4 linked regions of the Homo sapiens genome follow. The protein of the gene in region 2 interacts with the protein of the main gene of each other region in a pairwise test. Each region holds a gene or a part of one and is shown on either strand. Other genes may lie near its edges. The genes, in order: CXCR2, SMCO4, SCN3B and STOM.

Region 1 (7,029 bases), on a different chromosome or scaffold from region 2:
TTTCTAAACCATGCAAGGGAAACTAGTAAGAACGTGGCCTCCTCTACTTCCTGTGACCACAATGGGGGCTGCATTGACACTGAGACCAAGAAGAACCAGTGGACATGAGGCTTGGAATGTGACTGTGAAGAGAAGGGAGGAACCCCACGGGGCTGCACTTAGGCAGGAGGTCTTAGAGAGTAGTGGAAGTGTGCCCTGAAGAAGAGCCAACAAAGGAAGGCCTGCTGTCTTTGGGCAGGGAGTCCTTGCTGATCAAGCCATGTATAGCTAGAATCTTGAGGAGTCCATGGCGAAACTTCTGGCCAATGAAGGCGTAGATGAGGGGGTTGAGGCAGCTGTGAAGGATGCCCAGAATCTCGGTGGCATCCAGAGCCCGGTCGATGTGATTGCGGCGCTCACAGGTCTCCTGGATCACCTGGGTCCTCATGAGGGTGTCTGCCAGCAGGACCAGGTTGTAGGGCAGCCAGCAGAGCAGGAAGATGAGGACGACAGCAAAGATGACCCGCATGGCCCGGTGCTTCTGCCCCATGTGGGCCTTAAACAGCGTACGCAGGGTGAATCCGTAGCAGAACAGCATGATCAGCAGTGGCACGATGAAGCCAAAGGACTGGGGCAGGATCCGTAACAGCATCCGCCAGTTTGCTGTATTGTTGCCCATGTCCTCATAGCAGGCTGGGCTAACATTGGATGAGTAGACGGTCCTTCGGAAAAGTAAGACAGGCAGGGCCAGGAGCAAGGACAGACCCCAGATGCTGAGACATATGAATTTGACCAAGTAGCGCTTCTGGGTCAGTGTGCGTGTGGCATGGACAATGGCCAGGTAACGGTCCACACTGATGCAGGCCAGTAGCAGGATGCCACTATAGAAGTTGACTTCCTTCAGGAGTGAGACCACCTTGCACAGGAATGTGCCAAAAATCCAGCCATTCACCTTGGAGGCGGCCCAGATGGGCAAGGTCAGGGCAAAGAGTAGGTCGGCCAAGGCTAGGTTCAGCAGGTAGACATCAGTGACGGAGCGGCCGACCCTGCTGTATAAGATGACCAGCATCACGAGGGAGTTTCCCAGCAGGCTCAGCAGGAATACCAGGGCATAGATAATGACCACAAAATACTTGTTGATTTCCAGGGATTCTGGTTCACATGGGGCGGCATCTAGTAGAAAAGGGGGCAGGGTAGAGCTGTAACTGTAATTACTAAGATCTTCACCTTTCCAGAAATCTTCAAAGCTGTCACTCTCCATGTTAAAATCTTCCATTTTTGAGGTAAACTTAAATCCTGACCTATAGAAGAGAGATGAAGGTTACTGCATAATAAATTCCCCATATTCTTGCCCATCCACTCAAGAAACTGGGATAGGATTCTTTGTGTTGGCTTGAGTATTACAATGTAGTAATTTTTCCCTTCAAATTTGTAAGTGGTAGCTCTTAGGTTATGAGATAAATTTGGTGATAAATGGTACATTTTATGAGAGGACCATAGTTCTCTTTAATATAAGAGAGAAATTCTTAGCATTTCTTTTAGCATCGCCATCACCTAAAACTTTGTAGAAAGTTCTCTTTGGATAATCCCCACAGAACCCTCAATACTACCTGGATCCTTCAGTGGCGAGCATCTTTGGCTATCAAGGCTGGGTTTAATGTTCAGAAATGTGAGATGTGAGATGTCACTCAGTTCTTTTTTTTTTGTCTTAGAGATGGGGACTTGTTATGTTGCTCAGGATGGTCTTAAACTCCTGACCTTAAGTAATTCTCCTGCCTCTGTCTCCCAAAGTGCTGGGAATATAGGCATGAGCCACTGCACTCAGCCCCATTCAGTTTTTAATCAGGGGATTAAGCAGGAACTCCAAATGGGCTATACCCTCAGAAAAGATCATGGTTTGACTATAAAGCTGAGACATGAATCCCTTTGTTCAATTTTCTAAAAGTTATTTTAAAAGATGTATTCTGGAAAATGGTTTGAACAATTGTGGCATGGAGTTTTGGAAGGCTCGAGCTAGCAGAGTCTTCAGTTAATTAGTAAGGCCCAGCGTTTCTCTTTTGGGTAGAAGGAGACCCGCTTTGGGAATGTCTGTGTAGTTTGGAAAAGTATATTAAAAACAATAAGCAAGCGGGCTGCCTGATTCTCCCTGTGGGTGGAAACGTAACAGGTTATTTGGGGAGCTCTGGGCAGCCATGTGCCACCATGCGGGATAAGCAGACACAGCCAGTCTGCTACCCAATAAGAGAGGGGCAGCAGGAAGCAGAGAAGACAGGGTTTGCACTACCCTTGCTTGGTGGCTTTCCAGCCCTGCTGGAGACCCTTCCTGTCCTGCATGTGTGTGCCTCCATCTAGCCTTGACTCCCCTGTTCCTCTCAGATTTAGTCTAGCTCCTGGGGCTCTGCCCTTGCCACAGGGACAGCACAGATCCTGCTCTGGGGAAGCCTGGGTGTGGAGGGTGGGCTGCAGTTATTCAAAAATATTATCCCAGTGGTGGCTCACACCTGTAATCCCAGCACTTTGGGAGGCTGAGGTGGCAGATCACTTGAGGTCAGGAGTTTGAGAGCAGCCTGGCTAACATGGTGAAACACTGTCTCTACTAATAATACAAAAATTAGCCAGGTATGGTGACGTGCACCTGTAATCCCAGCTACTTGGGAGGCTGAGGCACAAGAATTGCTTGAACCCAGGAGGTGGAGGTTGCAGTGAGCCGAAATCACATCACTGCACTCCAGCCTGGGCAACAGAGCGAGACTCTGCCTCAAAAAAAAAAAAAAAAAAAAAAAAAAATCCCAGTTTCTCAAAGCAGTCAACTAAAGCAATCCAGCTCCCTAATTAGCTTCTTTCTGAACCACAAAATAGATCACCCTCCGGCCATTGCCTTAGAGTAAGGGATGACCACCCTACCACCAACCATGTCCAAGTCCGTAATCTACCCCCAAAATGGAACCCAGTGTGAGAGAAAAACCAGGAAGTTAAAGGTCCCAGAACCCACTTCACACTCACCAGGCTGGGCACACTCAGAAAAAGATGCCCAAGAACAATGTGGGTGAGGAAGTGGAAAAGTCAGAACTCTCCCACATTGCAGGTGGGAATGTAAGATGGTGCAGCTGCTTTGGAAAACAGCTTAGCAGTTGCTCAAAAAAGTTAAACATAGAGTTACCACATGAACCAGCAAACCCCAACCTAGGTATACACCCAAGAGAATTGAAAGCTAATGTTCATAGTAGCATTCATCATTAAGGCCAAAAAGTGGAAACAAACCAAATATCCATCAACTGATGAACGGACAGACAAATTGAGGAACAGTCATGAGCAACTGAAAGACTTTTTGGTCAATGACACATCACAAATACCACAGTGGTCCCATAAGATTATAATACTGTATTTTTAGTGTTCTTTTCCTATGTTTATATATAAGAATACCATTGTGTTATAATTACCTACAGTATTTAGTACAGTAACATGCTGAGTAGGTTTGTAGCCTAGGAGCAGTACTCTACCATATAGCCCATGTGTGTAGTAGGCTATAGCATCGTATACTCTACCATGTTCACATGACATATTTCTCAGAATGCATCCGCATTGTTAAGCAACTTATGACTGTATTATGTACAACAGAATATTATTCAGCCATGAGAAGGAATGAGGTACTGATACACAATACAACATGGATGAACCTTGAAAATGTTAGTCTAGGTGAAAAAAGGCAGACACAAAAGTTTTCTTATTGTGTGATTCCATATATGTGAAATGACCAAAATAGGCAAATGGGTAGAATTGGTAGAGACAGAAAGTAGATTGGTGGTTTCCAGGGTCAAGGGGAGCTGGGAGAGGAATGTTAATGACTACGGAGTTTTTCTTTTGAGTGATAAAAGTGTTCTGGAATTAGTGGCAATGGTTGTAGAATATGCTAAAAACTTTAAATGGGTGACTTTTGGGGTATGTGACTTATGTCTTAATTAAAAAAAAGATTAATCAAAGGGTACACGGCCTTGCAAAGCAAATACAAATATTACAAAAATAACAACAAAAGTCCCAGGGAGGATTTCTTTTTAGCAGAAAGGAAGTCTCTGTTGTCATCAATCATATGTAGCAAAGAAGAAAGCTGAAGAAGATTAAGCAAAACTGGAAAAATAATGCCACTTTTCCCCCAAGAGTGATGGAATTCTTAGCCATCACCTTCCTGACAAGTTTTTAGTTTCTCTTTTAAGAGTTAGGGGCCAGATACATTGCCTTCCCAGCATGCCGAGGCAACTGATGGAGAAGATTCAATCAGTTGTAATGTACTATACTAGATCACAACAATAAAAGTTAACATTTGGGCCGGGCGTGGTGGCTCCCAGCACTTTGGGAGGCCGAGATGGGCGGATCATGAGGTCAGGAGATCGAGACCATCCTGGCTAATGCAGTGAAACCCCGTCTCTACTAAAAATACAAAAAATTAGCTGGGCGTGGTGGCGGGCGCCTGTGGTCCCAGCTACTCGGGAGGCTGAGGCAGGAGAACGGTGTGAACCCGGGAAGCGAAGCTTGCAGTGAGCCGAGATGGCGCCACTGCACTCCAGCCTGGGCGACAGAGGAGACTCCGTCTCAAAAAAAAAAAAAAAAAAGTTAACATTGTACTTTATGTATGTCTTACGTAATTTATAAGCAATCCCTCATTTCTGGCCCTGCCTGGCCAGAAGGCTGGGGAGGTATTGAGAGGGCTGGGAATACAGCTTGCTGGACCAGTATGGTCAGCAAGACCTGAAAGAAGTCACCAGCTCCTCAGTCCCATGGTTGAGAGCAAGTTTGCTGAGAGGCCCAGGGTATGTCCAATGAAGTCAAGAGGTCAAGGGTGGATCACTTCTGGGAGCAGATGATTACAGATGCTCTTAAGGGAACAAATGACCCAACAGAAGACCCATCTTTGAGAGTAGATGTAGGGCATATTGGGTGCAGAGAGCTTGTGCTCTTAGAGAGCAGGGCCTTGTATGTATGAATATTGGCTGTGAGAAGCCAGGACTGAGGCTGCTGCAGAAACTGCCATGTCAGCACAGGCAGCAGTGGCAGAGCATGTTTCACAGGTAAATCCTCACTGTGGATAATCCAGTGCTCAGCTGTGCTGGGGGTGGGCTGGAGGTGTATGGGTGAGCTCATGCTCCCAGGCATTATGGGTCAGCTTCAGGTTCCAGAGGGAGAGCATGCAAGTCAGGACAGAAGGTAGAGAACTCAGCAAGGAGAACCAGGTCAGGCCAGTGACCTCCAGCTCCTAGGGTAGGGAGAGGGGTGTTTGTTGTTGGTGTTGTTTTTTAGTTTACCAATCTCTACAGAGGATGACTTGGCAGTTAGAGGGACAAACTAAGGGAAGGAGATGACACATCTGAGGTCTGCTTTGTGCCTCACAGGTACATGATCTCCATGGCTCATTACAAATAGATACAATTAGGCCCTGTTTCTAGAAGACTGAGGCACAAGGAGGATCAGCTGACCTAACAGGGAGGCTCAGTAACCAGCCTGCGATCACAGGGTGGAGAAGTGGTGAAACCACTGTTCCAGTGAGGTATAAAGGACTACACTTGCCTTATTTGTAGTCTATAGCCCTTCCTCTTAAAAAAAGTGCACCTCATCTATTAAACATATTTGTAAGCTAAGTTCTCTTTTTCTTTCTTTTTTTCTTTTTTTGATGCAGTCTCGCTCTGTTGCCAGGCTGGAGTGCAATGGCGTGATCTCGGCTCACTGCAACCTCCACCTCCCGGGTTCAAGTGATTCTCCTGCCTCAGCTTCCCAAGTAGCTGAGATTACAGGCGCCTGCCACTGCACCCGGCCAATTTTTGTATTTTAGTAGAGACGGGGTTTCACTATGTTGGTCGGGCTGGTCTCGAACTCCTGACCTCAGGTGATCCGCCCACCTTAGCCTCCCAAAGTGCTGAGATTACAGGTGTAAGCCACCGTGCCCAGCAAAGCTAAGTTCTTGAGATATCATTAAATCAACCTGTATATGGTCCACTCACATTCTTTCATGTTTTATGCATTGTTTTCTTTTGCCGTTTCTTTGGCCCAGAATGAAAGAAACAGCTCTTGCAGGGATGATAAACCAAACACCCTTGAACTGGCTGGGTCCGGCTGACCACACAGTCATATATTCCAGGATAAAAAGGGAGCTTCCTTGACTTAGGGAAAATGCCAGCCCCTTAGTGACTCATGGTAGTTTGGAAACTCCATAGATGATGGCATGAATTCTAATTTATTACATGAAAATGCTATAGAACGAGAGACATTTACAAGATCTCAAACATCTAAGGCAATCTTTTTAACAACAAAAGAGTCATTTTAGTACAGTTCCAGTATTCTTTCTCTCTATAAATATAATCCACAAATATTGCATTTAGTGTCGGGAAGTGGGAAGCGAACAGTGTTCGGCCCATCCTCAGACCCAGTCCTAGCCCAGGCCAGGAGGGCTGGCTGAGTCTTGGAAGGCTGCCAGGCCAAGGGAAAAGCATGGGCAGCAAGTGGCCCTGAGTGGTTGGAGAGGGTTGTGAGGGAGGAGGAACAGAAGTTCTTCCTTTGGGGATGGAGAGCCCCAAAGGGAGAAAATGAAGAGGCCAAGGGGTGAGGGTGAGGGGCCCACCAAGGGTGGGGAGAGATGCTTAGGATAAATGTAGGCTGGGTATCAAGGGAAACAGAGAACAGAGACATTCTAGCTGGTGGGAAGGGTGGGTGTTCCAAGACTTACTGGGTCGCTGGGCTTTTCACCTGTAGGACACCTCCAGAAGAGCAGCTGTGACCTATGAAAGGGAGGTGGTGGTGAGAACACAGTGGAGGAAGTGAGTGGTAGATTAGATTGCTCAATGCAATTCAGGGGTGGAGCTCCTGAGGGTGCGGGTGATTTTGATAACTTTGAATAATTAGTTCCCAGATCAGCTCTCGGATGCATAGTCATTTCATAGACTCGTAGAGTTTATATTGGGAAGGGACCTGAGGGGTTTTCTACCTAGTCTTTCCATTTTACAGATGGGGAAACTGAAGCCCAAAGGAAATGGCTTGCCCAGGATTGCATGGATTTCTTTCATC
Region 2 (6,449 bases):
GACATCCTCAGAACAGTAACCATGAATCTGACTTCCAAAAAGAGGCTGCTCCATCAGGAACCAGGACCGCCTGAGCAGTGCTGTTAGAATAAAATGAGGCAACCATTCCAGCCAATTTGCATTGAAAACTCAGCTGGAATGCCAACAATTTGCATCCTTTCAGCTAAGAACAAAACCAAGCCTGACCTTTACTTCCAGGATCACTCTGTATTGCTGTTTGCACAAACATACCGAGTTGAAGTAGGAAAAACTAACTGGTGTAAAAAGCACCTGTCGTCACAGTCTAATTAGAACTCTCACTTTCTAAAGCAAGCCAATTAATATACCCTTTCTGTCCCTCTCCATCTTAAAATTATCGGTCAAAAAGCATAATTTTACTCAGAAATGATGAGCAGAGGGAGTGCTGGGGAAGGTGGAGAGAGCCACAGGAGAAAGGGAAGGGGAGGGAAGAGGGGCAGACCCGTGGGCAGGGGGAGACCCACAGACAGCACCTCCTTGCAAAACATGATAAGCATCCAGTTTAAGGCTATTATCTCCTTTATTCAAAAAATAAATATTTCACTTTGATTCAACATATTTCAAATCACATTAAGCACAGAGAAGAAATACAGTCCCTTTGGAGATTGTGAACACGTGTTGGAAAGAAGCATGATCCAAACAATGGGAATGAGGTGAGTGTGGATTCCAGCTGTTTCCTGACCCAGAGGTTCCATCCCTCTTCAGGTGGAGCTACTTATCGATTTTTAGGAGAGAAAAAGAAGCACACACACACACACACACACACACACACACACACACACATGCGCGCGCGCTTTGAAGTCTGAAAGGCACATGAAGTGGACCATAAGGTGTATGGCACATTCACTGATAAAACATCCCCTATTCCCTCCCAAGAAAGCGGAGATACTTTAATCAAGTCAAAGACCAGAGAAGACAGGGTGCTCCTGCTTACAGCTCAGCAACATGAACATCTCTGAATATGAAAGCCATTTTTTGTTTGCGTCCCCCTCCCGCGCCTCCTCTCCCTGCCGATGGGGTCCGCAGCCGGCTGCGGGGCTCACTCGGTGATGGTGGGGCGCGTGGCCACGTACACAAACACCACGATCAAGAGCACGACCACGGCCAGCGTGGGCAGCACCACTGTAGTGATCTGCTGCCGGGCCTCCTGCATGGCTTGCTTCCGCTCCTTCTTGTCCTTGGAGGTCTCCTTCTTGGGCTTCCCTTTGAGCTGCCGCATCTTTCCTAGAGGATGCTAGGAGGGTGTGTCCAGAGGGATTCCAGGAAGGGCCACACTCCTCTTGCCAAGGCTGGAACCTCCTGTAGAGAGAACAACTGTGATAGTAGAGAATAAACCAAATAGAAGAAAAAATAAATCACTTAAAGGCAAATACACAACTAGGAAAAATATCTGCAACTTACATGACAAAGGGCTAAGAACAGAGGCCACACCAGGCTCTAAGTTCTCTTGGGATCAGCGCTCTAAGTAGTGGGCACTGGGTCACCGGTGTGCTGTGAGAGGGGCCTCCGCTCCAGCGCCAGCTGGACAAAGCCCTGGGTACCAGACAAATAATACTGTGTTCTGTACATGCCATGAGGTGAAAGGATTGGGAAGCACCAACTACGCCGCCTCCACTCAGAGGAGCGGCTCTCCCTTTCGTGGCTCTAGCTACTTGCTTTCCTGCTCTAAGTTCCATGATCTCCCCAGCCCATCTCCAGCATGGAACTGCAGGCAGCCTGCAGTCTCCAGGCACGTAGCCCCCTTCCTGCCCAAGCCAGGCCAGCCTCATTAAGGCTGCAGAGAGCCCACAGGCATCAACTTCTCTCATCTCTTTGTTGGTTCCTTGGCCCATTCATCCAAACCTTCCCAAGCACCCACCGTGTGCCAAGCATTACTCAAGGAGCTGAGGATAGAGATGAAGGACTCAGTTGTGTCCCCACAGAGGTCACCGTCTAGGGGGCATGATGGAGACCCGGGTCACAGTAATAATGAAGGGAGACGGCTGAGCCCACAGTCCTGCCACCCACTCAACCTGGGATTCTCCTGTTAATTCTGTAGCTCACGGAGGTGCCTAACAGGTGAAGTAGAACTTTCAGGGGCCAGAAGAATGAATACAAATGTTTGGATAACTACAGAGGAACATCTCTATAAAAGTCGGCTTCTTAGCTTTAAGCAGATGAAGCAGACTTCAGCTGATTTAAATCGAGTTTACTTAAAGGCCTTTGGCATCTCACTGATTCCCAGAAAAGCCAAAGAACCAGGCTCAGAAAATGGGCAGGACATTATGCTGTGCTGCCATAACTGGAGCCCAACTCACACTCCCAGTGTGAGGATGCCAGAGCCTGCATCACCACCGTCAGCACTGGACATGGGCACTGGAGCAGGAGGTGCCGAGCCACCATGACCACCCCCAAAAACTAGATGTGGCTGCTGGCACAGTCTCCAGATGAACTCGCCACCCCCCAGCATTCTGCATCACCAGCTTCCATGCATGTGTGACTAGCCAAGCCCCGGCCCATATGCCCACAGCCTAGCCTTCCAATTTGTACAGCAGGAAGAGTACTTTTCAAACACAGTGACGGAGTGGGGTTGGGTATCAGGGCTATATCAAAGGCAGATGTCCATTACAATATTCTCGGAGAGTAGCATGGAGTGAGGGGTTCTTGGAAGCAGAAGAGCACTGAATACCAATGTTCCTCTAGCAGAGGGACCTATGCTGTATACTGTCTGCCCTGTTTTGTCCCAGGGTAGTGGGTGGCCTGTCATCATCTTGAGGAGGAAGATGACATTTACACCTAAGTGACCGAGGTGGTAGAATGTGAACTCAGAGTTGGGAAAGGTCTTACTGACACCATCCTGTTTTTATGAGGGATACTTAATCTCTTACCATTCCTCTCACTCCATTTAGACCCCAAAACCTTTTTTGTATCATTCAAAATCAGGCAGAGTTTCCTAAGGTATGAGATGACAAATATTATTGTGCTAGGATGGCATAATGCCAATCAAAAGCAAACATTAAGGTTCAGCAAATATTAAGGGAAGCGCCATTTGGGCAAATGTATAATTTCCTTCATGAAATAAGGAACAGAGAGAAAAAAAAAAACACCTACTATTACTTTCTTAAGGCCTGAAAGGTATAGGAACCCCTGGCTTTACCAATTCTCCTTTTCAAGTCTTCCAAAGGACTTCCAGGCAGACTTGCCTTCAAATCCAGGACCAATCACTTACAGGCTAAATGGCTTTGAGCAAGTCACTTAACTCCACTAGGCCTCCATGCCATCATCTGAACAATGAGAACAGCTTGTCTTAAAGGATGACTGTGAGAATCTGGAAAACAAATGCATCTGTACCCAGAGCTCTGCCCGCCCGCAGGGACGCGGTACAGGTGGGCTGAGACATCTCCACCCATACCCGTGGGCGGCCCAGGGACGGGTGCACTGAGCTCCTCTAAGCCTGACTGCAGCCTTGAGTGATGCCCACCTTCGCGGGACCGTGGTGAGGATGGAGTAGGAAGCTGTATAACTCAGGGCTTGGCACAGAGCGGGCGGCGAATTCGTGCTAGCTGACATACCAACACCTGGAACACACCCCAACGGCCCTGTGAGTCAGACAGACAGGCTTTATTATCCCCATCACGGAAGGGAGGAAACCAAGGAGCAAAGGGGAAAAATGTCTTGCCAACAGTCACCCAGTTTGTAAATACCCCATGGCTTCTAACAGAGCAATGGACAGCATTCCTGTTCAAAGCTGCAAATGGCAGCCTATTCTCTCCGACACGGCCTCAAAAAAATTGTTTAAAAAGAAACAAGCCATTAGCAGCACTCTGATTCGTGGCCATTTCCTTGTGGAGCTAATGGCCTGTCGGAGCCCGCTGCTGTCTCTCCCAAATTCCTCACAGGACTGGCAGGTGGCACCCCAGGCCTGGGGCTAGCCATGCCCTGGCTGGCTGGCTAGCAGTGCTGGGCCTGACTTCCCTCCTGCACTTCATGCTGCTGTCTGCATCCACCCACACAAGTGTAGTTGACATTCAAAGGCCCCAGCCTCCACAATGACCAGTTCTCAACATTTGTAAGATGCATTCAGAAGTTCCTGGAGGCATGGAAAAAAGCCTCAAGCTGCTGGGGCCAGGGCCGGTCTGGTCAGGATTTAAAGGGCAAACATGCCCGTCTGAATCCTGGGTACTTCATCAGGCTTCAGGAGGAGCAGCGTCTCTGCTCTCACTCACCTGTGAGCTGGGGCAGCAAGGGAAAGCATCTCTGAGATAACGACTGGGGAGGGGACCCTATGGTGAAAAGGGACCAACCAGGAAAAAAGCTGGGAAGAGCACCAGGCAGAGGGCAGAGTGGCCTGAGCCAGGGAGGGCATGGGCACTGGGGAAGGGCGGACTCAAGAAGCGCATTGAGTGCTCTGCATGTGAGGATGCTTCTTAGACATCGTCATGGAAATAATATCAAGGAGGCAATTGGATAAATGAGTCAGGAGCTGGGTCTGGGCTGAAGATCTGTATTTGGAAGTCATCAACTATTGGATTAAGAGAGATCATGTCCAAGGCAGGCAGAGAAAGGGCCCAGGACTGAGTCCTTTCACCCTGACAGCTACAGGGCAGGAAGGGGAAGAGCAAGCATGGGGTACTCAGAGAAAAGGAGTGAGGCAAAAGAGAACGTGCTGTCGTGGGGACCAAGACAGTCAAGAAGGTCAACTGTGAGAAGACAGAGGCATTTGTGCCAGAACATAAGCGAACGCACTGCTTCCTTCCTCGGGAATATTTGGCCAGGGAAAAACTGTCAGTGGCACGTGCTCAGTGCAGAGCTGGCTGACACTCTGCTGCAAGCCCCTCTGTCTTCCGGTAGCTTGTGATGACGGGTCTGCATGCCAGCACGCCAAACAGCACCAGGGCAGAAAACTGCTTTGAAGTTTTGTGGGAAGAATGTGTGTGGCCAAAATGGTTTTTCTTTCTTTTTCTTTAAATAATAAGCGAAACTAGAGAATGATGTTTGAGGGGTCTAATAGAATGGGAGAAAACCCTGACACTGAAAAAAGAAGAGGTCTCTGTAGGAGCAAGACAAGAAGCTGAATGGACAGACCTGCCTTCGAGAGGCAAAGGACCCTTTGAACTCAACAAGAGGAGGTAGGAAGATGGCACTGGGGGCGAGGGGTGGCTCCGTACTGTGAGGGTTGGGGGACTAAAGGCTTCTGTTTTTTTCAATGAAATAGGAGAAGGTTTCAGCTTAAAGTCTGGGAAGTTGGGAGGCAGACTCAGGGAAAGAGAAATCAAGAAGCAATCACTTTTGGAGGGTGGAAAGGCCACCACAGAGCACTGTCCATGCCCGCCTCCCTCTGGGCTAAGGATCGCCTCACCATGGCTCTGGGCCCAGGGGCTGCACCGGGCGGCCTCCTGGGCCAGGGCTGGCTCAAGCACATCTGCTAGGACCTCTGAAATGTGGGCTTGCCTAAAGGAGAAGCTGGGCCAACTGGCCTCTACTTCAAGAATCTAAGAGACATGAATGGACACTGAAGTTGGACAATCACACAGTTGTAGTCACCAGGGAAGCCAGGTGGGAGAGAGGCCTGGGGGTGGAGGGAGCACTCCAGAGAGGCCACAAGAGAAGCCTCCACACTCTCCTCCTTCTAGTCGAGTCCCCTGTGAGGCCAGCTCTACACAGGTTCCTGTCCTCAGGGTACTCCGACGTGTCTCTGTATGTGATGAACGCCTCTTTCAACTTTGGCTGGCTCCAAGGGGTCTCTGTCCCTTACACTGGAAAGAGCTCTGCCTAAAATGACTGCTCCAGTTTCACAAGGAAGAATCCAAGGCCCTGCCACTGACACAAAAGAAAGGACTGGCAGAGTCAAAGGTCAAACCCACATCTGTGACTCTGAAGCCTGGACAGTCCCCACCTTCCTGGGTGTACCCCACTTATCTTCCCGCCCTTCGCCCACTTTGTGCCCCCATCATGGTTCAGCAGCCCCTTGCAGAGAGAAATAAATGAAGCTCACACGCTCAGCCTGGCTTCTGCCCAGCAAGCAGCTCAGGCAGGATGGAAGCTGCAGCCTCCAGCTTCTCAAATGCCAGTGCCCCACGGCCTCTAGCTTCCCTAACCAGGGAAACGGAAACTTCACAAATGCCTGAGTTCTACTAATTCTAATGAAACTCCACCTGCTATGCTCCTACCCCCCACCAGCACACACCCACGGCAACCGGTCAGCATGGGGACACTCCAAATGGTCCCCAGTATGTGTGGGCAGGAGACCAGAGGCAGAGAGGAGGAAAGCAGGGACGCATTCTTCAGCACAGAATTGTTTGTGATTTTTTTTCTGTGATTAGAACTTTCCCGTCTTTTCCTACTTATGTATATAGATATGCATGTATGCACACATGCTAACTTCTTATATGCACTTTTCTCCGATTTGGAGATTATAATGTACACAGAGTGTTAGATCCTATTAAGGAATG
Region 3 (7,029 bases), about 30 Mb from region 2:
AATTAGCTGGGCATGGTGGTGGTGCCTATAGTCCCAGCTACTGGGGAGGCTGAGGTGGGAGAATCGCTTGAATCTGGGAGGTGGAGGTTACAGTAAGCGAGATCACACCACTGCACTCCAGCTGGGTGACAGAGGGAGACCCCGTTGAGAGAGAGAGAGAGAGAGAGAGAGAGAGAGAGAATATATATATATATATATATATATATATATATATATATATACACACACACATATATACACACACACATACATATATATATATACACACACATATACAACCACTTTGCCACTGGCACCAACCACCCAGAACTGACACTGGCTATGGTGCAGGAGCAGAATCTGGAAGACTCCCAGCTCTGCCAGGAGCGAATCTCTTCGTTTCCAAATCATGGATAAGTCTGGGGGTTCAGCCACTTAGGAGACTCGGCACAGCAAGTATCCACGAGAGAACTGTTTGACATAATTGACTCACTGATGTGGCTGTGCTGGGTGTCCCGGGTGAATGTCACCCTTGGATCACTCTTTGTCATCCCTGTCATTCCTATTTCAATGGGACTGCAGGAGTTAAAGGAGCTAACCTTTGTTATTTCACATAATGATGCTTTGTGTTATTCCAATTTCTTTATGAATTTAATGCATATAATAGGATGGCACAGAAGATTAGATGAAAACACCTGCAAAATGTGTGGTAGGGCGCCTATCACATAGTAGGCTTTAAATATAGCATATCTCTTTCCTCTGCTTCCTCCAGCCCATAATCAAGGGTGCTTGCAGCTGGCCCAGTGCCCTTTCTCTCACAGAAGCTGGGGCTTCACTAAGGCTGTCAGTTATCTGCTGAGGATCTGTCAGTGTTTGGAAGAGAAGGAGCCAGTGTTTGCTAGCTTGGCATCCCCCGGACTGTCAGGAGCCAGGCTGGGAACAGCAGAGGCCAGCAGAAGAAAGGCCAGAGTCAGCAGTCTAACATACAAGGAAATCTTTACCGCCCTCGGGCCTGTAGAACCATTCCACCACCGTGGTGGCCTCCACCTCCTCTCTCTTCATGCAGGAGATGCAGCGCAGCTTCATGGGGTTGCCCTGCACGGCCTCCGTCTCCGAGGGCACTTCCACACACACAGGGAAGCAGACACTGACTGCAGAGAGGACAGATGGACAGGGAAGGAACAGCAGGTGGTGGGGGAGGGGCACAGGAGAGAAACATTGGAGAAGAAGGAGGGAGGGAAGAGAGACAGAGAAGGAAGAGTCATGAGGCCAACCTGAAAAAAGCCACGTGCACATGTCTACACCTTCACCTGCGCTCCCTGAATGTACAGGCTCAGAACGTGTACACATTGGAGGAGACCTGGATGATCTAGACATTGACTGAAATCCTTCCCCTGGAAGCAGTGGAGATGCAGCACCGTACATTATACTTGAGCCCTGCTCTCTAAGTCTTATAGCCCAAATGGGAGACAGGGCATCTACCTACCCAGCAACCATCCATCCCCCTTCATTCCACCACCACTCATTAAAATCCACTCTCTGCCAGGTCTGATGCTAGACTAGAGATGCAAAGATGAATAAAACACTAACCATGCCCTAAATGCATTTATAATCCAATAGGGAACACATATTCCTAACTAGGATTAAACCAGACCACAGCAAGTAACACACTCATGATATATTCTGTTCTTAGAAGACAGGCAGTTAGTTACTCCCAGTTGGCCTGGGGAGAAAGGAAGAGAAGGATGGTGAAACATGAGGCTAGAAAGGTAGGCAGGGCCCATGCTGTGAAGACCTCTGTGTGTCCCTTCCAGTGTGAGGTATCCAATGTTTTAAAGTCGTGGAGAGATGTAATTGTATCTGTGTTGTGTGAAAACTGTAGGTAATTCTGACACATGGTGGAGGTTGGAGCAGCAGTGAAGAAAATGGCGAGCGGACCACTAAGCTGGAACAATGGTCTATGCAGAGGAGTATAGCAAGGCAAGTTAAAATCTGGAGCGGGGTCAGATTGTGGGACACCTTGCATGCCACACAGAGGTCTAAGACTTAGTGTTTCTGCCCTCTAGAAACTTGAAGTCTGTTTTTTAAAAGGAGGCAAGTATATCAGCTTGATAATTCAGAATAACTTGAGCGGGACAAGGCTGCCAGCAAAACATGCGCAAATGTGAGCTGCATTAACAGATGTACAGTACGCAGGAGGAAGGAGGCGTAGTTTCTCGGCACTGTTTTTGGAACAAATCTGGACTATTATGATCAGTTCAGGATGTCACATTTTAAAAAAGGAAGTTGTTCAAAGAGTGCATGCCCAGAGGTGAGGGAGATGGTGAAGGATCTGGAGATAAAGTCTGGTGAGGAAAAAATGGGAGAATTCGAGTTGCTTAGCTTGGACACAGAACATATCTGTCTTCAAATATTTGAAGGCTGGCAGATGGAAGAGAAATTTGATTCTGCCCAACCCTAAAAGTTATAAGAAAAAAATAAGTTTAATGCAATAAAGAAAGAATTTTATGATTTTGGAGCTGTTCACAAATGCAAATAACTAAATGCTAAGAGAGTGTACACAGCATTGTTTGGGATATTTGAAAGTAAGACGAGGCCAGGTGCTGTGGCTCACACCTGCAATCCCAGCACTTTGGGAGGCTAAGTTGAGAGGATTGCTTGATGTTAGGGGTCTGAGACAAGCCTGGGCAACATAGTGAGACCCCTGAGTCTACAAAAATAAAATAAAATAAAAATTAGCCAAACATGGTAACACACAACTGTAGTCCCAACCACTCAGGAGGTAAGAGGATTGCTTGAGCCCAGGAGTTTGAGGCTGCAATGAGCTATGATGGCACCACTGCACTCCAGACTGGTTGACAGAGTAAGACCCTATCTCTTGAAAAAATAAAAACAACATGATGGTCACCGCAGATTCTTATATTAGGACTTTGAAGATCCCTTCTGATGCTACTTTTTCATGAATTAATAATAAAAACAGAACCCCCAGAAAAAAAAAGAAATAATACACACTACATTTAAAAACTAGTCCACTGTTAATGGTCAGCCTGTTCATCTCCTGGCAGAGCGTTCTTTCCTAAAAGCAGAGGAAGGTTTTATTTAGAGCTTAATAAGACACTGCCATAAATTAATTTTGAGTCCAAAAACTGTGTTTGATTGACTTAGAAGGCAATGTATTTATTTTAAAACATGGAGTTTAAAAACTAGTGGCACTAGAATTAACTTAAAGTTGTAAACATCAAGGTAAAATAAATGTAATTGGGTTTTCAACTCTCCAGCAAGCTGGGTGAGTCTTATCTGACAGTCTTCAAGAGGACCTATTGCTTCTGCAGATGGTGAGCCACGTTAATGGAGAGAGGACTCACATCTAGGGAGAACTGATCAGAAACATCTTCAGCATATGATGAGTCTGAAGTATTGATTATAGATCTGATTAAACAAAAAGGAAATGTGGTTTGCGCAAAAGTTTGTGAGTGGGCAGAGGGGTAGAGCGTATGCAGCAAGAACTCCGTGTAGTATGGAACCTCAAGGCACATTCATATTTAATGAGAGCTGGCAAAGATAAATTCATTCATTTCATGTTGACAAACTCAGAAGTGGACTAAGAAGTCTCAAGGAATGCACAGTTACAATTATAGAGGCAGGGTGAAGATAGAATCTGGCAACTGAAGAGTTGGGTTTGATGTACTATGTAATCTCTCTGGACTCAGTTTATTCATCGACATCATGCTGAAAGTTACATCTGTCTAGTAGGTTTATCATGAGAATTTTATGGATTAATTTACATGAATGTGCTTTGTACAAATGTCATTATTCATGTTATTCTATCTTTCGTTTATTTCCCAAATATACTGAGTGCCTTCTGGGTGCCAGGCATTATTCTAAGCACGAAGAATACACCAGAGAACAAAAGAAAAGAATCCCTGTTTTATGGAGCTTACATTCCAATGGAGGGAGAGGGAAAACAGCAACATTAAATAGTAAAAAGTGCTGTGAGAAAAAATAAAACAGGAGAGAGTGTGTGCACAGGGTCATTGGAGGATGGCCTTTCTGAGAAGGTATCATTGAGCAGGCGCTGAAGAAAAGAAATGAGGATACAAGCTATACACATATCTGTGTGAAGGCATGTCAAACACAGGAAATTGCAACTCAAGGGCTCAAGGGGCCCAAAGGAGTGTGTTTGTCATGCTCAACAGACAGCAAACAGTCCAATGTGGAAATTACAGCAAACAACGTGAGAATAGAAGGGGATGAAGTAGTAGGAGGGATGGGGAGGGCCAGATCACAGCAGGTCTTATTGGCCATGTTAGAACCTTGGCATTTGCTTAGAGTTTATGGCATTTGCATGGAGCAGCAGAAGGTTCTGAGAGGAAGAATGATGGGATCTAATTTGTACAAGATCATATGATCTGATGCTGTGTTGGGAATAAACTGATGAAGTGAAAGGGACAAGGGTGGAATCAAAACAGTTAAGAGGTCTGGTACAGGGATCGGATTGGAAGACGATTTTGTTTTGGTGAAGATGACAGTAGAGCTGGTGGAGTTTGAAAGAAATGAAATGCAAGAAAATGATTTGCTGGATTAACATCTTTGAAAAGGTGAGAGGTGATGTGCTCTAGTGAACAAGTAGATGGGATGGCAGAGATAGAAGCATAGTTAGTTCATTTATAGTTAATGGAGGGAAAGCAGTCAGGATGGCAAATGGGGTATGGCAGAAAGTGGGGTAGCCCCTCTCTTTTCTTGGTTGCCCCTAAGGCAACAATAATCCAAGGTATCATCATAGAGCAAGTCCCACTCCTTCCCTTCTGGTCAAAATCTAGTTTCAGGGCATGAGAACTCTGCTCGTATGATCCTGAAGAGTACATTGAAAAATGGCCACAAAGTTCCCCCACCTCTGTTTGCTTGCCTTTTGCAGTATGACTTGCTGCTCCTTGCTTCAAGAGGTAATGTCTGTTTCTCCATCCTTTGAGTCTTCAGCACACCACTGTCTTTCTTTCTTTCTCCTTTCTTTTTCTTTTCTTTCTTTTTTCTTTCTTTCTTTTTTTTCTTTCTTTCTCTTTCTTTCTTTCTTTTTTTCCTCTCTCTCTCTCTGTCTCTGTCTCTCTCTCTTTCTTTTTTTTTTAGATGGAGTTTCACTCTTGTCACCCAGGCTGGAGTACAATGGCATGATCTCAGCTTACTGCAACCTCCGCCTCCTGGGTTCAAGCGATTCTCCTGCCTCAGCCCCCTGAGTAGCTGGGATTACAGGCACCTGCCATCACGCCCAGCTAATTTTTGTATTTTTAGTAAAGACAGGGTTTCACTATGTTGGCCAGGCTAGTCTCAAACTTCTGACCTCAGGTGATCTACCCACCTTGACCTCCCAAAGTGCCGGGATTACAGACATGAGCCACAGCACCCAGTCCACCACTGCCCTTCTTTCTATGAAACCCTCTAGGTATTCAAAGAAGGCTGTAAATATGGCAGGAGCTCAAACTACATTGCTGACTAAAAGTAACAAACTCTTGGAATAATGTTGACCAAATCATTTGACCTTTGTTCTTCTCTTCAATTCCCATAATAATAATGAAGAAATTTATGAGAAGGAAAAACATGATTATTAATAATGATCATATTTCACTAGGGAGTAGTAGCATCCATCTATCATGAGGCAGATAATAAAGAATTATGAACCAGCTTCTCTGATACCCTCAAATCTTTCTCTTCTTTGGACAATGCCCAATTTTTCCTCCTGAGATTGCTCTAGAATGCTTTCCTTTGCACTGAGATAATGAAAAATTTGATTAGAATATAAACAATTTCCAAAAAGGGGTAATAAATGAGGTTATTTTTAGATGCTGACACCCTGACGTGACTTGTTCTGTCAATTTAGCTGGTCACTTAGGGCCTTGAATAGGATGCACGAAAGATCACCAGGGGAAGAGAGGAAAACACACAGGGCAACTAGAAGGGCAGGCCTGGAGAAGAAGGGCAGAGAAGGTACTAGGTGCTAGTGAGTGAGGCCCTAGGACAGGTGATGGTGTTGGGGAGAGATGGGACGGTAGCTCAGAAGAGAAATGGGAGGACAGGTGCCCTCCTGGCGATTGTGCATAGTAGCACATGTGTCCATGAGAGGTGCTAGAAGGAGCACTGGAAGACTGAAATCAGAAAACAAGGGTTCTCTAGCAAGTCCTTTCCCTTCCCCGAGCTCATTTTCTCATCTCTAAACTGGAAATAGCACTCTTTCCCCTGACTACCTCAGGGATAGACATGAGGACCAAAACAAGCAATGTATTGAAAATTACATTGTAAACTGTGATGCACAGGCAAATATAGGGTTTTATTTATTTATTTATTTTAAAGGCTGGGCATGGTGACTCATGCCTATAATCCTAGCATTATGGGAGGCTGAAGCAGGAGGATTACTTGAGCCCAGGAGTTAGAGACCAGCCTGGGCAATATGGCGAGACATCGTCTGTATTAATTTTTTTAATACAATTATTATTATTTTATTGTATTAATTATTTATTGTATTAATTATTTATTGTATTGTATTATTTTTTAAATCTCTTTAAAAAATAAAAATTATTACATGCTTTAACAAAGGAAATAAGGAAACTTTTTTTCATGCATGCAGAAAGTAAATGGAAAGACTCTTTCCCTTCATATTGTACATCATATTAAAAAATCAACTTTGGAAGGGGGAACACATCTAACCCAGCATTATTGTTCAATATTGGAATTGCATGCAAATCAAATGAAATTGTATCTGTGAAGGGCGGCTGTTTTTCTTTCTTTTTTTTTTGATGGAGTCTCGCCCTGTTGCCCACGCTGGAGTGCAGTGGCACAATCTTGGCTCACTGCAACCTCCACCTCCCAGGTTCAAGCAATCCTCCTGCCTCAGTCCCCCTAGTAGCTGGGATTATAGGCACGCACCACTATGCCCGACTAATTTTTGTATTTTTAGCAGAGATGGGGTTTCGCCGTGTTGGCCAGGCTGGTCTTGAACTCCTGACCTCAGGTGATCCACCCGCCTCGGCCTCCCAAATTGTTGGGATTACAGGCGTGAGC
Region 4 (7,029 bases), on a different chromosome or scaffold from region 2:
AGGAGGAATATCAAATGAAATAGTTCTCATGTCCACTTTGATGAAGCTGTCAGTGCATGGCAGAATAAAAAACAAACCTGCAACAAAGATACACACATTATACAGACACCAGCAACCTAATCAGTTCACTTCTCCATTCAGTTTTAAGAAAATCAACCTAGTGAACTGAAAAGTCACCAGTTCATCTTCGTGAATGAGCCAGAAGCCAGGAATGATAACTTTGATTCCTCTTGCTTACTTCCCACATTTGACTGTCTCCACTAAGGTCTGTGGAGTTCATTTCCTTAATCTACTGTTGCTATCACTCTTCTCCCCACCGCCCCACTGGGACCAATGCAATCGTTTCCCAGGCCATCTTTCTATTTTTTGTAGTTTCTCTCCTATAATCTATTTCCTAAGCTGCAAGCCGAGCAATCCCCCCTAAAATACAAACCCTCCCCCACGCATGGTCCTGCATAACCCGCCTTTGTTCCCCTCTTCAGCCACTTCCTCTCTCTTCACACCCTGCACTCTTGCTGGACTGATCTACTTGCAGTTTCTTGAATCTGCAATACTCTCCTCTTTGTTGCTTTGTGTATGTTGCTATTTCCGCCGCAAACACCTCCTGTTGGTTAACACCTTTTCAGACCTCAAGACTCAGTCAAGATGTAACTTCCAGAAAGCCTTGACTCAGCCTACGACTAGTTCAGATCAGTAACACTTCTCTGGTTTTCTCTTTTCTCACAGCTCTCTGTGAGTACTTGATCATAATACTTATCACATAGGATTGTAGCTATCTGTTTCCTTGTTGGTTCCTACCACTAGATAGGAAGATCCTTGAGGGTAGGGACTGTGTTTTAGTCTCCCTTGAATTCCCAGAACCTGGAACACAGTAGGAGCTTAATTGAAGTTTGCCAAATGAATGACTGAAAGTCTTTCTTTGGTAGAGATTCTCATGCTCAAACTTGTATAGCTGTACTGTTCTTGGCCTAGGTGGTAATCTTATCAGCTCAAATGGGAAGGGGAGGGGAAGGGTAGGAAGGAAAGGGTAACAAAAGATTGGCTAGAACCACTGCTATTGTTATACAACTCCTGCTACATGAACTCTTATCTAAGACAGAGTAGAAGAGGCCCTCATAAGGGAAATCACGTCAATAAAAAAATTTTAGACTGGGCACGGTGGCTCACGTCTGTAATCCTAGTGCTTTGGGAAGCTGGGGTGGGATGATTGCTTGAGGTCAGGAGTTCAAGGCTGCAGTGAGACATGAGCATGCCACTGTACTCCAGCCTGGGCGACGGAATGAAACCCTGTCTTTAAAAAAACAACTACCTAAAAATAAAAAAAATAAAAAGAACTTTAGTTTTCAGATAAACAATCTAGAATCCCAGTACTGACCAGGTCCTTTGGCTCCTCCTTGTAAAATGCGACCCAATCTAAAGATGATGGCTCTTTCATACTCTTTTATAATCTAGAATAAAAACATGAATAATAATTTAACATGAAGAGTACAAATATATACATGCATGGCTTCTTAAATATATATTTCTGCTCTAAACAGATTAGATGCCTCATCTTTTTTCTTTAGAACCAGATCATATCTATAAATCACATGTCCAATGTTTACCTTCTCAAAGCTTATTTATTATTTTCTTACTGATTACAAAAGCAATAGATATTCACTGTATAAATTTAGGAAGGACAGAATAGTATACAGAAACAAATCCATAACCTCACTCCTCAGCTGTTAACATTGTTATTCAGTTACTCATGCAGGCCAGGCACGGTGGCTCACGCCTGTAATTTCAGCATTTTGGAAGGCCGAGGTGGGCAGATCACGGAGGTTAGGAGTTCAAGACCAGCCTGGCCAACATGGTGAAACCCTGTTTCTACTAAAAATACAAAAATTATCCGGGTATGGTGGTGGGTGCCTATAATCCAAGCTACAAGGGAGGATGAGACAGGAGAATCACTTGAACCGAGATCGCACCACTGCACTCCAGCCTGGGCCACAAGGTGACTCCGTCTCAAAAAAAAAAAAAAAAAAATAATAATAATAATAATAATCCCAGCTACACGGGAGGCTGAGGCAGAAGAATCGCTTGAACCTGGGAGGCGGAGGTTGCAGTGAGCCGAGATCGCGCCACTGCACTCCAGCCTGGGCGACAGAGCAAGGCTCTGGCTCAAAAAAAAAAAAAAAAATTACTCATGCATTGTTAATTCAGAAACACAAAAAGCTGAAGTCTTCACAGTTTTTCTTCTGATTCCCTTAAGAATAAATTGATCTGAAAATGCTTGGAGCATATTTTATCTTCTTAGAAATATGTAAATAATAGTCATATATCAAAGTATTAACAACTTTGTAGAAAAAATAACGAGCACTGAGGGTATTTATGACGTGCCAGGCATTGTGATAAGTACATTTAGACACATAATTCATTTAATCCTCGCAACACTCCTATGAAGTAGGTACTGTTACTTTCTCCCATTTTACAGGTGAGGAAACAGCAAAGGTCACACAATAAACAGTAAAGCCAGCAGTCAAACCCTATCATCCTAACTCTGAAGAACTTGTTCTCTCAGAACCATCTCACATCCCTGGCCCCAGGAAATTTTTGATGGTGAAACTTACTTTAGCCCACGGGGAAGGGCAATGGCTGAAAAGAAGTTTTAAGGTTCCATTTTAATAGGTGGGTAGAAGAATAAATTTTCCAAAGAAAGATGAAGAAATAAGAATTATAAGAGAGAGAGACAGTCTGTTTCTTTCTCACATACACACAGGCACACACGAAGTAGGTTTATGGAGGTAGGAGTTGACCCCTTCCCAGAAGTGAATGAAATGTTCTTTACCTTTATGCACATCCATATTGAGATTGGGAAAGTTATAACGGTGAATAAGAATGAGAACGCCACCAAAATCCATCCGCAAGGTCCAAGGCCCTTACTGGGGCTGTCTGTTGAAAACAAAAAATATACAACTCTCACAACTGTTACTAGCATAATCACCACCATCTTCATCCTTACCATTCGCTGAATACCTATGTGCTTGGCACTACACCAGCTGTTTTACATGAATTTCCCCATCTAATCCTCATACAGCCCTGAAGTGTAAGTACTACTTTCCCTTATCTATGTGATGTCATAACACAAGTATATTTCCACATTACTCATTACTTTATTCAGCAAACATTTATTAAGCATCTACTATTTATTAGGCCCTCTGCTTTGTACTGAAATGATAACAATGAGTAAGACCCAATCCCAGCTTTCAGGGTTAAAGTTTAGTGGGAAAGTCAGACAAACACATAATTATAATATTAGGTGGTAAGTACAGATATAGAGTATCTGTTCAGAATATTTTGAAGACACAGAATGAGTTAACTCACGCAGTTAGGATGGAGGTGAGAAAGGAATGGGGCGGGGAGGTGATTCAGGTGGCTGTCAGAGGGTTTCCTGAAGGATGTAATAGTAAGAAAATATCGACGAAAAGAAAGTGGAGGCTGGGCGTCGTGGCTCACGCCTGTAATCCCAGCACTTTGGGAGGCCGAGACAGGTGGATCACTTGAGGTCAAGAGTTCAAGACCAGCCTGATCAACATGATAAAACCCCGTCTCTACTAAAAATACAAAAATTAGCTAGGCGTTGTGGTGAGTGCCTGTAATCCCAGCTACTGGGAAGGCTGAGGCAGGAGAATTGCATGAACCCAGGAGGTGGAGGTTGCAGTGAGCCAAGATTGTACCACTGCACTCCAGCCTGGGCAACAGAGGAAGAATCTGTCAAAAGAAAAGAAAAGAAAAGAAAAAGGAAAGAGGGAAAAGGCATTAGAGCATTTTAGCTAGGAGTACAGTACGAATAAAGGTGAAAACCATATGATATGAGTATAAAGTTGTTTAGAGCCTCTTTTTAAAAATTACACCTGTAAAATATTTCACTAGGTTTATGCAGCATCATTTATTGCCCACTTCCTGATTACACAGGTTGTTTGATTTCTTAGTGCTATAAACAGTGTTGTAGTGAACATCTTTGTACACGGCTTTCCTCTCACATTTCTAATTGTTTCCTGTTCCTGTAATATGCAACAGCTTTTCCGTCTGATTACAAAGGTAATAATGCAAAAAATTCACAGAAGTATAACAAAGGAGGGAAAAATTACTTTAAATTCAGAGGTATTTTGGTATATTCTTTGAAAATTTTCCTAGTGTACACACCATATTTTTAAATGATATATATATATATATTTATTTATTTATTTTTTGAGACAGAGTCTTGCTCTGTTGCCCAGGCTGGAGTGCAGCAGCACAGTCTCACCTCACTGCAACCTCCACCTCCTGGGATCATGCGATTCTCCCGTCTCAATCTCCTGAGTAGCTGGGATTACAGCCACCTGCCACCACACCCGGCTACTTTTTGTATTTAGTACAGATGGGGTTTCACCATGTTGGCCAGGCTGGCCTCGAACTCCTGACGTCAAGTGATCTGCCCACCATGGCCTTCCAAAGTGCTGGGATTACAGGCATAAGCCACTGCGCCCGGCCTTAAATCATATTTTTAAAAATAAATAAATAAATAAAATGTGTAACCTATTTTTCTTCCCTGTAGCTATTCTCTTTCACCTTCTTTTTTGGCCTTCGTGGTTATGCATTTGTGTTTTTGAAGTTACACTTGCATAAAGTTTAAAAAGTCAAACCATTCTATATGATTAGTACAAAAAAAGGGCATTCCCATGCTCACCTCTTCCAATTTCCTCCTCCTCAAAAACATTTGCTATTTTGACCATTTTGATATCTACCTCCATATTTCTAAATAATACGCTTTGCAGCTGGGTGCAGGGGTCACACCTGTAATCCCAGCACTTTGGGAGGCTGAGGAGGGAGGATCCCTTGAGCCCAGGGGTTTGAGACTAGCTTGGGCAACATAGGGAGACTCTGTCTCTACTTTAAAAAAAAAAAAAATAATAATAATAATATGCTTCTGCCAGGCATGGTGGCTCACGCCTGTAATCCCAGCACTTTGGGAGGCCGAGATGGGAGGATTGCTTGAGCTCAGGAGTTTGAGACCAGCATGGGCAACCTAGTGAGACTCCCATCTCTACTTGAAACTTCTTAAAAAAAATTAGCTGTGTGTGGTGGCACACACCTGTAGTCCCAGCTACTGAGGAGACTGAAATAGGGGGATTGCTTGAGCCTGGGGGTTCGTGGCTGCAGTGAGCTGTGATGTACCCCAGCCTGGACAACAAAGTGAGGAAAGAAAGAAAGAAAGAAAAGGAAGGAAGGAAGGAAGGAAATGCTTGTTTTGTTACTTCTTGCTTTTTCAGTTTTGAGGACTATTAACTTTCTACTACAGAAAAAGATTTAGTTCTCTTTCCTCCCCGTTACCCCCACCACATACTTATACCCAGCTTTCCAATATAATTACATCATAACTTCATTTAGATCAATATGAGATTTTATATTATGAATTTGTAAGTGCAATTTAAAGCTAAGCCAAGTAGTGAGGTATCACTGGTTTTCTCTTCCTGTACTATTTTTGTTTTTTCTGGAATTACTGTCTTATTTTTTCCCTTTGTTCGGTTTTCAACGTACTTATTGATCCAACCTTAAATCAATTGCCTAAATTTCCTCTCAAAGAGGTCAGGTATACTATCAATTTTATCTTCTGGAAGAATTCTCTCTCAGAGCCTTGTGTGGACTTCCTTCATCTGGTGTGCACGGCTATCATTCTGCAATTGCTTTCACTATCATCCTGGGAACTCCCATCACCTCAGTGTTGTGTTCCTATTTTCTGTATCAAGTGTCATCCTCATTTTTAGTTTGCTTTTGCTTTCTGTAGAGGACATAGGGACTGAGAAGGCCAAGGGATATAGTAGGTTTTCTTATCAACCACTTGGAAGGCTTCTGCTGTATTTTCAGGAGCTATTTTAATGACAGAGGGGAGAAAAGGTATGCCAGGCACATGTTACTGCTCAGAAGAAAGGGCAAAATGGCAGTAAGATGGGGCTTGGAATAAATAGGAGGCCAAGAAATAAGCAGAGTGTTCAGGCTGGGAACATGGGAGAAGAGAGACACATGTTGGCACCCAGGTCAAGTGCTCTAAAACATAGGATGAAAAATCAGAAATATAGTGAGTACTTGGGTTGTATGTGACTTGGTAGTTTTCTGATCCTGTGTTATAGTGTGAGGTAAATGTCTTCATGTATACTTAAATAAAATGATCTAAAGTAATCCTGGAGGTTTCTAAGTTATAATTTAGGGGGTACAGACATATTCATTGAGAGAATATTCAAAGCAGGGCCATAGTACTGTTTGTGAAGAAAGCTTTATCTAGTATTACCATGACTGATCATAGCAACAGTGGCTGTTTTGAGGGGTTGTGTATACCCCAGGCATTTTTTAAAGTTACTTTAGACATGTATCTCATTTAACTCTTACAACAGCCCTGTGAGGGTATTTTTAAATCCCTTTTACAAATGAGTTACCTAAAGCAACATTTAACTTTCCCAAAGTCACACAATGGAAGACCTGGGACTCAAATATGGGTCATCTTACTCCAAAGCCCGTGTTCCAAATTCACCCCTCAATAAAAAAAATCCTCATTAAGAATGTTTTCGTGGTTGAGCACTTTCTCAAGACAGTATCCAAACTGAAAAGCATGGCTGGAGTTGTGAGAATGAAATCTGATATTTTTACAGAGGAAGTCCTCTTAATGCCAGCCATGCCTATTTATAGCAAAAGATAGTTTCAAGGCTCTGTGACAGACACAGGTCTAGGTTTCCAGGGTGAAATGAATTCCAAACAAGGACAGACTGACCACAAATACTTATTTATCTGACAGCATTTGGTGCCTTTTCAAATACTGTCCAAGTCTCCCATAACATACTAGAGTAAAAACTCCCTGAGGGCAGGGATGTTGCTTATTCACTTTTATATTCTCAATGTCTAGCACAGTATCCTGCATAGTAGAATAGATATAAAATAAAATACTTCTCAGCAAGTTTTCTAGCTAGATATGTCTTTTTCTTTCCTTTGAATCTCGATAGCATTTTTTGAAAATTA

Evidence for each region.
Region 1: the proteins of SMCO4 (region 2) and CXCR2 interact in binary tests that used the Homo sapiens proteins (3 or more experiments, as listed by UniProt).
Region 3: the proteins of SMCO4 (region 2) and SCN3B interact in binary tests that used the Homo sapiens proteins (3 or more experiments, as listed by UniProt).
Region 4: the proteins of SMCO4 (region 2) and STOM interact in binary tests that used the Homo sapiens proteins (3 or more experiments, as listed by UniProt).

What each region holds. Positions count from the first base shown.
Region 1 is NC_000002.12:218,129,028-218,136,056, reverse strand, and holds part of CXCR2 (C-X-C chemokine receptor type 2), read right to left. Parts: intron 6,748-7,029; exon of another isoform or gene 6,744-6,747; 5' UTR 6,692-6,743; intron 1,281-6,691; 5' UTR 1,256-1,280; coding exon 173-1,255; 3' UTR 1-172. UniProt on the Homo sapiens protein: Receptor for interleukin-8 which is a powerful neutrophil chemotactic factor. Binding of IL-8 to the receptor causes activation of neutrophils. This response is mediated via a G-protein that activates a phosphatidylinositol-calcium second messenger system.
Region 2 is NC_000011.10:93,477,953-93,484,401, forward strand, and holds the end of SMCO4 (single-pass membrane and coiled-coil domain-containing protein 4), read right to left. Parts: intron 1,333-6,449; coding exon of another isoform or gene 1,238-1,332; coding exon 1,058-1,237; coding exon of another isoform or gene 918-1,057; 3' UTR 520-917; downstream 1-519.
Region 3 is NC_000011.10:123,644,621-123,651,649, forward strand, and holds part of SCN3B (sodium channel regulatory subunit beta-3 precursor), read right to left. Parts: intron 1,131-7,029; coding exon 967-1,130; intron 1-966. UniProt on the Homo sapiens protein: Regulatory subunit of multiple voltage-gated sodium (Nav) channels directly mediating the depolarization of excitable membranes.
Region 4 is NC_000009.12:121,353,226-121,360,254, forward strand, and holds part of STOM (stomatin), read right to left. Parts: intron 2,932-7,029; coding exon 2,828-2,931; intron 1,449-2,827; coding exon 1,376-1,448; intron 78-1,375; coding exon 1-77. UniProt on the Homo sapiens protein: Regulates ion channel activity and transmembrane ion transport. Regulates ASIC2 and ASIC3 channel activity.